Linked DNA regions of Homo sapiens: region 1 is linked to region 2. Evidence: fine-mapped expression QTL. A gene starts in region 2. The other region holds a variant in brackets. All regions are shown on one strand. Distances are between the middles of the regions.

Region 1 (5,195 bases), 27 kb before region 2:
ACCATGCTCGGCTAATTTTTGTATTTTTCGTAGAGATGGGGTTTCACCATGTTGGTCAGGTTGGTCTCCAACTCTTGACCTCGTGATCTGTCTGCCTTGGCCTCCCAAAGTGCTGGGATTACAGGCGTGAACCACCGCACCAGCCCCAACTCCTCTTTCAATAGCAGGCAGGGCCCATGGAATGCATCCTTGAGCCTGCCCGTCTTCCACCTGCCTGCTCCACGAATCACGGCCATGTTGCTCCAGTTCTCACAGGGATGGCACGGAGCCTGCAGGCCCTTCTGCTCCCATGAGGGAGCTGCCAACATCTCCGAGGGAACTCCCAGGACAGGGTGCGACCCAGCCCGCCCTGGCGTCCTTCCCACCCACCGCCAGCAGGTAGAAGACATCAGATCCAACACCGACTACACTTCAGTGTAGAAATGGAAGGAAATGAGCTTGCCATGGGACGAAGCTCCAGTGTCCATCCCCCTCGCACCTGGGCAGCTTCCTGCCCAGAGCGGACCCACCTGAGCCAGAAGCTGCATGGCACAGACCTGAACCTTCCCCCAAGAAGGATCCAGACCCAGACCCAGGCGGCCTCCCTGGGCCCACATGGGGGGCTCCAGGCTCACGAACTGGCCCCGGAGGGGCTCTCCTGGCTCTTCCAGAACTCTTAGGGGCATCACAGACAGGACAGACCCGCTCAAATCCCTCCCACTGAAGCAGCAACAACAGTGGCCATGACAGGTCTGTTTACATGGGCTTCACGTCCTTGCCCTCCTTCCGGCCTCACATTCGCCAGCAGATCCAGTCAGCACAAAAGCGTGCTTGGGGGCCCAGAGGAGACAGAAACGAGGGTGGCCAAGCGCACCCACCATACCTGCACACACACTGCACACATGGCCCCAGTGCCCCCGCCAGACCTGTGCACATGGCTGCACACACACATGGCCCTGAGTGCACCCACTACACCTGTGCACACACACAGCTCCAAGTACACCACACCTGCACACACACTGCACACATGGCCCCAGTGCCCCCGCCAGACCTGTGCACATGCCTGCACACACACATGGCCCTGAGTGCACCCACTACACCTGTGCACACACACAGCTCCAAGTACACCACACCTGAGCACACACTGCACACATGGCCCCAGTGCCCCCGCCAGACCTGTGCACATGCCTGCACACACACATGGCCGAGTGCACCCACTACACCTGTGCACACACACAGCTCCAAGTACACCACACCTGCACACACTGCACACATGGCCCCAGTGCGTCCGCCAGACCTGTGCAAATGCCTGCACACACATGGCCCTGAGTGCACCCACTACACCTGTGCACACACACAGCTCCAAGTACACACCTGAGCACACACTGCACACATGGCCCCAGTGCCCCCGCCAGACCTGTGCACATGCCTGCACATACACATGGCCGAGTGCACCCACTACACCTGTGCACACACACAGCTCCAAGTACACCACACCTGCACACACTGCACACATGGCCCCAGTGCGTCCGCCAGACCTGTGCACATGCCTGCACACACATGGCCCTGAGTGCACCCACTACACCTGTGCACACACACAGCTCCAAGTACACCACACCTGCGCACACACTGCACACATGGCCCCAGTGCCCCCGCCAGACCTGTGCACATGGCTGCACACACACATGGCCCTGAGTGCACCCACTACACCTGTGCACACACACAGCTCCAAGTACACCCACTGCGCCTGTACTCCCAGCTACTGGGGAGGCTGAGGCAGGAGAATCGCTTGAACCCGGGAGGGGGAGGCTGCAGTGAGCCGAGACTGTGCCACTGTACTCCAGCCTGGGTGACAGAGTGAGTCTCTGTCTCAAAACAAACAAATAAACAAACCAATGTGAGAATATCCTTATAAAGAAAGAAAGTCCTTGGGAGTTTGACAGGACAACAACTCACATTCAGAAAGAATCAGGAGAAACATCCTTTGAAAAGCAATGGAAAGAGCGGTGCTGGTCTTACCTGAGCGCCCCTGGAGTAGGACCTGAAGATGGTGCAGAACCGGCCCTGGCCCGACGTGTCCCTGAAACATACGGGGAGGGGAGGGGCCGGGACTGTGGTCCCTGTGAGAGGCTCACCTCCTTCCCTCCTCTGCCGACCCACCTGGATGTCCTGAGGGGAGCGGGGCGGCCAGGACAGGTGCCAATGAGGCTGTGCTAAGCGGCTTTGTCTGCACAGGTCACAGCAGCCTGGCGCCGTGCCGCTGAGCCAGGCAGGCAGCAGAAGGGGCCCCCGCCCACCTGGGGAGTGAGCAAGCTCCTCACATGAGCCTGGGAGCTCCAGGAGACTGTCCTGCCAGGCTGGGGAACCCCAACCCTGTGGACATTCACGTCTCATCAACGCTGACGTTCTGGGAAATGCTTTTTTTTTTTTCTTTTTTGAGACGGAGTCTCATTCTGTCACCCAGGCTGGAGTGCAGTGGTGCAATCTC[A/T]GCTCACTGCAACTTCTGCCTCCCGGGTTCAAGTGATTCTACTGCCTCAGCCTCCTGAGTGGCTGGGACTACAGGCGCCCGCCACCACACCTGGCTAATTTTTGTATTTTTAGTAGAGATGGCGTTTCACCATGTTGGCCAGGCTTGTCTTGGACTCCTGACCTCAGGTGATCCTCCTGCCTCGGCCTCCCAAAGTGCTGGGATGACAGGCGTGAGCCACCACACCCCGCTGGGAAATGCTTTTTAAGGTGAAGCCGACAGAAGGGGAGGGAAGGGGCTCACAGCCACCACGGAATCAGGTTTTCCGGGGCAGGAGGGGAGCCGCGATCTCTAGGGACACAGTGTCCCAGACTGTCTTTTTCCTGTTGGAGTAAAATCCATTCTATGTTTAAACAGGGGCTGTGTAAGTGGCTCTTCCAAGTGAAATGCAAACAGGACGCCTTCCTGTTTCTCTAAGGGTTCTGTTCTCCCTTCGGCATTTGTGTCCTCACCCAGGAACTGAAGTGCCGCAGCCCCAACTCACCAGAGCTCCAGCTTCACGCGCCGGCCGTCCAGCAGGATGGTGGTGGTCTTGTAGTCGATCCCTGCGAGGAAGCACAGGGCGCTGAGGGGACGCGCCACTCCTGGAGCGAGCGCCCGCGAGACCAGCCTCGGCCACTGGCCTCCCAGGGCCAAGACCCACGCGGAAGTGGAGAAGCAGCTCCCCCACACTCAGCCAGTGGGGCAGGGGGAAATCTCGGGGCTCTGGCCCAGCAACCCAGGCCTGCCCACTTCTGCACACGGGCCACGGGCAGGGCGGGGCAGGGCAGGGCAGGAGCGTGGTCCATACAGTGTCAGGCCATCGGGCCCCACAGCCTAGCAGGCCAGCCTCTCCATGGGCACGGCTTGCCTGGAATGGGGCCTCCGCCTGTGGCCCGCGCTGGGTGCAAGGCACAGGGCCTCTCCCTCAGAGGGCATTGGGCAAAGGCAGGGCGTGGACTCCAGCGTGCCTGGAGAAAGGGCAGTGCCTTTATTTCCACCCTGACCTACTTCGTATGCATTTTGAAGTTGAATTCTCCAAGGCGAATGTATTTCCAAGTCTCGGCTTACTGCAGCCCAGGAACTGCCAAGGTTGGTGTTAGGGAGGGCCAAACAAGTTTAAAAATGCTGCTTCTGGCCGGGCGCGGTGGCTCACGCCTGTAATCCCAGCACTTTGGGAGGCCGAGGCGGGCGGATCATGAGGTCGGGAGTTTGAGAGCAGCCTGACCAACACAGTGAAACCCCGTCTCTACTAAAAATACAAAAAATTAGCCAGGTGTGGTGGTGGGCACCTTTAATCCCAGCTACTCGGGAGGCTGAGGCAGGAGAATCACTTGAAGCTGGGAGGTGGAGGTTGCAGTGAGCCGAGATCATGTCACTGCACTCCTGCCTGGGTGACAGTACTCAATAAATAAATAAATAAATAAATAAATAAATAAAATGCTGCTTCTCCGGACTCTGGACTGACCTCAGACAGCCACCAGCCTGCCTGCCACATTGGTATTTTTTTTTTTTTTTGAGACAGAGTCTTGCTCAGTCACCCAGGCTGGAGTGCAGTGGTGCGATCTCTGCTCACTGCAAGCTCCGTCTCCCGGGTTCACGCCATTATCTAGCCTCAGCCTGCTGAGTAGCTGAACTACAGGCGCCCGCCACCATGCCCGGATAATTTTTTGTATTTTTAGTAGAGGTGGGGTTTCACCGTGTTAGCCAGGATGGTCTCGATCTCCTGACCTCATGATCCACCCGCCTCAGCCTCCCAAAGTGCTAGGATTACAGGCGTGAGCCACTGCACCCGGCCTTTTTTTCTTTTTTGAGATGGAGTCTCACTCTGTCGCCCAGGCTGCAGTGCAGTGCCACAATCTCGGGTCACTACAACCTCCACCTCCCGGGTTCAAGCGATTCTCCTGCCTCAGCCTCCCAAGTAGCTGGGATTACAGGTGCCCACCACCACAGCCGGCTAATTTTTATAATTTTAGTAGAGACGGGGTTTTGCCACGTTGGCTAAGCTGGTCACAAATTCCTGACCTCAGGTGATTCGCCCGCCTTGGCCTCCCAAAGTGCTGGGATTACAGGTGTGAGCCACCGTGCCCGGCCCACATCACATCATTACTTTTTATTTCCTTACAGTTTTATAGGAAAAGGTCAGTCCAAGAGAAACTGAAAGGAGCAGACAGTTCTGGACACTTAACGCAGGCACGACATCTTAAACAGGCTCTGGGCCCTCTGGAAACTTTCCAGAAGCTTCTACCTTTAGGGCTCAGCCCCTTCCCCCACCTTAGAAACACCATTCACGTTTTGTCTTTTTATGACACTTTCTCCAAGGGGCTTGGAAACGGGCACTTTTTAAACATAAGCGACGCCCTCCCACGGAGTGCACCTGCCCAGTGGGCTTGTGTGTGTGTCTGTGCACATCTGTCTCTCCGTGCGGGCCCAGCCCTGCAAGCCAGCCATGCGGTCTCTCTGCCTACGGTGCCCTTCTTCAGGCATCAGCGCTTCCACCCACACCGTCCTTCTGCCTGACCAACCCCTACATGTACATCAAAGGCTGTTCTCATGCATCGAAGGACACCATCAATGGACAGAAAAATGCAACCCAGAGATGGAGGGAAATGTCTGCAGATCACACGTCTCCTAGAGACTGATCTCTAGACTCTACAAATAACTCCAACTCAACAACAGAAAACCAAACGTCCCAATTTTAGGATGGACG
Region 2 (5,195 bases):
GTCTTAACCTTGAGACCTTAGACACAGAAAGCGCGTTCCACAGCCCAGAGGCGCTTCCTTCTCTGCTCGAGGCCACAGGACTCCTGCGGGGACCTGGAAGTGTGCCCCGGGCCCTGAGAGCACGTGGTGTCTTTCTAAGAGTGGACTCTCCTCTCTGCCTCTGGTCCAAGCCACTGTGAGCCTCTGAAGTCTCTGCAAGCAGGCAGGTCTCCACGTCTTACACAATACTGGCCCCACTTCAGTGAGCATGTCAGAGGAAGTGTGGCAATGCCCCACAGCCCGACGAAGGGGACAGGGAGGAAGGAGGGTCCTGTCTCTCCAGCTCCTGGCTGTGTGGTGCAGTTGGGTAGGCGAGCTGGCCAGCATGGCTGAGCCGGCCCTCAGAAGCACGCCTTCATGTCCTGGGAAAACACCGATTGATGAAACCCAATCCTTCCCGTGCTCTTCTGAACATGCACAAACACGCACGCCGCCAGCCTCCTGGGAGTGCGCAGCGCCCCTGGAGCCAAGCTTTAGAAGGCAACGCCACCTTCACAATCAACTTGGCCGCCCACCACCTGAGTCAGGAGTTACCAATTCTGGGGCAGTCACTGTCAAGTGCAGGACCAGGAGGCGGCAGGTGCAGGGGCCTAACGTGTGAGCCCCCAATGCCCCAGTGGGCCTTACACTTCCCCCACCTCAAAATGGACACAGAGCTCTTCCTCCCTGGCCCTTTCCAACCCCTCCTCCAGGCTGAAGCCAGGAGCACAAGCTTCCAGAGCCCCCGGTGCTGCTGCCCACTGCTGAAGCCATGCCAGGAGGAAGCGCGCTCAGCCTCAGTCCAGGTAATCCCACGCTCTGCCAACCCCCGAGTTGAGAGAGTGGGGGATGCTGCGCCCACACTCTCAGCAGCCAAAGGCAGACAATTCAGCAAATAGCAGACGCTCAGGGCAGTCAGACAGGACGGACAAGAGCCCAAGAAACAAAGCAAGGGGAGAGGGCAGGGACCAGGAGAGGTAAGTTCGCCAGCGTAGATGGCATTCCCTGAAGCGCAGATGGACTCTGGGGAGGCTGGATGCTGACTGCTCCCAGTTCATCTGGGGCCACATCCCATTCGGCTGGGTCCAGGCCCCCATGAGAGGGGATGAGGACCACACCGTCTCACTCACTCTGTTAACCACCTAAATTAAGAGGCATGCTCAGGCAGGCAAGCCCCAGTGATGCCACCTATCTAGTGTATTTTAGCCATGCCACTGGAAGTTAAAAACAAACGTTCAGGCCAGGCGCAGTGGCTCACGTCTGTAATCCCAGCACTTTGGGAGGCCGAGGTGGGCAGATCATGAGGTCAGGAGATTGAGACCATCCTGGCCGACATGCTGAAACCCCGTCTCTACTAAAATACACACAACAAAATTAGCCGGGCGTGGTGGCATACACCTGTAGTCCCAGCTACTCGGGAGGCTGAGACAGGGGAATCGCTTGAACCCAGGAGGCGGAGGTTGCAGTGAGCTGAAATTGTGCCACTGCACTCCAGCCTGGCGACAGAGTGAGACTCCGTCTCAAAAAAAAAAAAAAGAAAGAAAAGAAAAGAAAACAAAACAAAACAAATGTTCAGTAACTCATTACAGAGGTATTTTCTTCTAGCACAAAGCGTTGACTCCCTCAGCAGTAAGCAAATACCTCAGGGGAACAGCGTGCCTATAAGGACCTGTCATCTGTGCACGCTCGAGACAGGGTCCCAAGAGCAGCCCAGCAGCACCTGCCACCAGACCTGGGTCCGTGACACCTTCCCCGGGCCCATGACACCTTTCCCCAGATCTATAACACCTTCCCTCGGACCCCAGATGATCCCAGACCCATGACACCTTCCCTTAGGACCATGATGCCTTCCCCCAGATCTATGACACCTTCCCTCAGACCCCAGATGATCCTAGACCCATGACACCTTCCCCTGAGATCCCAGACCATGACACCTTCCCTTAGGCCCATGACACCTTCCCCTGAGATCCCAGACCCATGACACCTTTCCCCAGATCTATGACACCTTCCCTCGGACCCCAGATGATCCCAGACCCATGACAGCTTCCCTTAGGACCATGATGCCTTCCCCCAGATCTATGACACCTTTCCTCGGACCCCAGATGATCCTAGACCCATGACACCTTCCTTTTGGCCCATGACGCCTTCTACCGGGACCATGACATCTTTCCCCGGACCCCAGATCCTGGACCCATGACACCTTCCCTCGGACCTATGACACCTTCTCCCAGACCCCAGATCCTGCACCCATGACACCTTCCCTCCGGCCCACGACACCTTCCCCCGAGCCCATGACACCTTCCCTCGGACCCCAGATGATCCTAGACCCATGACACCTTCCCCAGGCCCATGACACCTTCTCTAGGACCCATGACACCTTCCCCTGGGCTCCAGATCCCGGACCCATGACACCTTCCCCTGAGATCCCGGACCCGTGACACCGTCCCCCAGACCCCGGGTCCATGGCACCGTCCCCGCTGGGCGCGTCCCTCTGGTCCGTCCTCCTGCCCCCCGGCGTCACCTCGGGACTGGAGCACGGGCACCCCGCAGCCACCGAGCTACCGAGTCTGGAAGCCAGGCAAAGGCGTTCCTGGGAACGTTCGGCGGCGCTTGGAAGGGCCGGGCCGAGGGCGAGCTCCGTGCCCAGCTCGCCGGGCTCGGGCCCCGCGTAGCAGCGCGCGCCGCGGGCCGGGCCTTACCGTTACTGTAGGCGTACGGGGACTCTGCCGCGCCGTCCTGCAGGCTCTCCAGGATCTCGCCCTTGCCCACGTCGCTGTCGCCCACCAGCAGGAACTTGAGCAGGTAGTCGTAGCTCTTCACCGGACTGCCCTGCGAGCCCATGGCCGCGCCGCCTGCGCCCCGCGCCGGCCGCCTGCCGAAGCACCGCCGGGTGAGGCCGCGGCGTGAGAGAGCCCGCGCCCCGCACCTGCGCCCGTTGCGTCCGCCCCACGGCGGCCGAGTGGGCGCGCCCGAAGCCCAGCGCCGGCCCCGCCCCGCCCGCGCCCGGGCGCACCTCAGCCTCGCCGCCGCCCCGCCGCTTCCCGCACCACCAGGGCCGCCGCGCCGCCCCACCCCCGGCCGCGCCGCCGCCATTGGCCACCCTTCGCCCGCCCTCCCGAGCCCATTGGCCCACCCGCCCGTCCGTCACGACTTCCCCGCCCTCACGGCGTTCCACACGGCGCCGCCAGACCTCCGGTCGCACCGCCTCTTCACCACCCCGCCCTGCCTTCCCGTAGTCACCAGAGGTCGCCCGCCGCCCTCCTTCCCTCAGCCATTGGCCTGTCTGCACGTCTGTCATGACCGCCCCTCCCCCGCCTTTCCCACACGGCGTTGCGGAGACAGCGGACGCCTGCCTCATCGCCGTCGCCATTGGCCACTCGCCTCCTGCTTTCCCGGAACCATTGGTTCGATTATAAGTTCACCAAGATCATTCCCTTCCCTGCGGCTGCCTCCCAGAGAAATCCCAGAGCCGCCGGCCGCCCCGCCCCCGGCCCACAACGCCGTTGTCCTCGCCCGCCCCGTCGCCGGCGCCATTGGGTCGCTTGCATGTCCATCACGGCTCTGCTAACCCCGCCCCTTTCCTACACGCTCGCCAATCAGGGGCTCGGAAGTCCACGTTGTTTGTATCCGCCCCTTCAACGCGCGGACGGGCGGCAGGATGCAGGCGCGCCCGAGCCGAGGCGATGCGGCTGAGTCCGGGAAACGAAAGCCCCTCGCAGGCTGTGCCGCCTGCTTCCGCAGAACCCTCGGAGGGAGCGGCGGGGTGGCCCCGGGCGCGTCCTCTCTAAGGCGGTGCGGCCAATCGGCGCTCGATGAGGCGGAACTTCCTCTCCGGGGCAGGGGCGGGACTTCCGCCCGGCGGCGGCGGGGCGCACCGTTGGGTCACCAGTGAGTCTGCAAAGTCGCTGAGGTTCTGGGACAGCGCGGCGTCACCGAGCGTGAGCCTTCCGCCCGGGGACGCGGCCGCCACAGCTCGGGACGCGGGGAGCGCGGCCGGCGCGAGCTCAAGACCCGGCCCGACGTGCTCACTGCGGCAGCGGCGCCTCCTGGACGGGGACCCAGGGCCCGGACCGCGCTCTTCCCGGGGGCGCCGCCGAGCCCTCGTCCCTGCCGGGCCCGGCTGCCGCAGGTGCGTGGGCGAGCGAGGCGGCTGCGTCCGCGGGCCCCGGCGTGGGGTCGGGGGTTGAGTGGGCACGTGGTTCTTTCTGGGGTGACGAGAAGGTCCTACCGTCGTGGGGATGGTCCTGCCTCTCTCGGTGAAGTTACTCACTCGGAACGGGTGAGCTTTGTGATACGTGCTCTGCGTTCAGTAGCGCTGTTACAGTCGTAAGTAAAAGCAGTAACGTCAGCGCCGACCCAGCGCAGCCCTCTCCAGACCGGGTGCGGAGCCCGTCACGTCTGCCCCGCCGGCGAGGAGCAGAGCCCGGCAAGAACCCTCCTCCAGAGGGGCCCCGACCAGGGCTGTGCCTCCGGGAGCAGGTGCTGCTTACACAGAGGGACGCCAGGACGGGCAGCCCCACACCTCCAGTGACCTCCCGTCCCCCAGAGCTGAAGACATGGCCTGACTAAGCGGCGACCACATCGACGCACCAGTTTTTTCTTTTTTGAAACAGGGTCTCCCTTTGTCGCCCAGGCTGCAGTGCAGTAGCGCGATCTCGGCTCACTGCAGCCTCTACCTCCCCGGCACAAGCGATCCTCCAGCCTCAGCCTCCCGAGTAGCTGGGACTACAGGCGCCACCATGCCCGGCTACCTTTTGTATTTTTTGTAGAGATGGCGCCTTGCCAAGTTCCCCAGGCATTAACCCGGAAACAACCTGGCGGGTCAGGGAGAGCCTCTTCTGCTCAGAGGTCATTGTGCCCAGACTTGAGCCCTGGCTGTGAAGTCCCTGAGGCCCCTCACTCCAGGGACGGGAAGCACCAAAGATGTGATGTTTCCTCCTCGGTTTCTGAGACTGCCTGGAAGCGGGGGGTGGATAGTGGTGAGCAGCCGTCTCCTCCTTTCCTGAGAACATAAATCAGAAACGCTTTCTGAGGCCGGGCACGGTGGGTCATGCCTGTAATCCCAGCACTTTGGGAGGCTGAGGTGGGTGGATCACCTGAGGTCAGGACCAGCTTGGCCAACATCGTGATAACCCCCTCTCCACTGAAAATACAAAAATGAGCCAGGCATGTTGGTA

The links. PIP is the estimated chance that this variant, and not a neighbour inherited with it, causes the effect.
Region 1: its variant is the best candidate, but not a certain one, in a credible set for the expression of RAB40C in esophagus muscle (GTEx, PIP 0.78).

What each region holds. Positions count from the first base shown.
Region 1 is chr16:615,064-620,258 of GRCh38, reverse strand. It overlaps RAB40C (RAB40C, member RAS oncogene family), which reads right to left. Exons shown (of 6, transcript NM_021168.5): 2 at 2,991-3,051; 3 at 1,999-2,059. LOC124903618 (a long non-coding RNA gene) reads left to right here and starts at 3,995. Exons shown (of 2, transcript XR_007064934.1): 1 at 3,995-5,195. The variant A/T (reference allele first, on the strand shown) is at 2,468.
Region 2 is chr16:587,956-593,150 of GRCh38, reverse strand. It overlaps RAB40C (RAB40C, member RAS oncogene family), which reads right to left and starts at 3,085. Exons shown (of 6, transcript NM_021168.5): 1 at 2,718-3,085. The coding sequence starts at 2,859. RefSeq lists silencers at 2,875-3,194, 3,285-3,404, 3,475-3,524, 3,535-3,594, 3,915-4,224 and enhancers at 3,569-4,442, 4,565-4,764.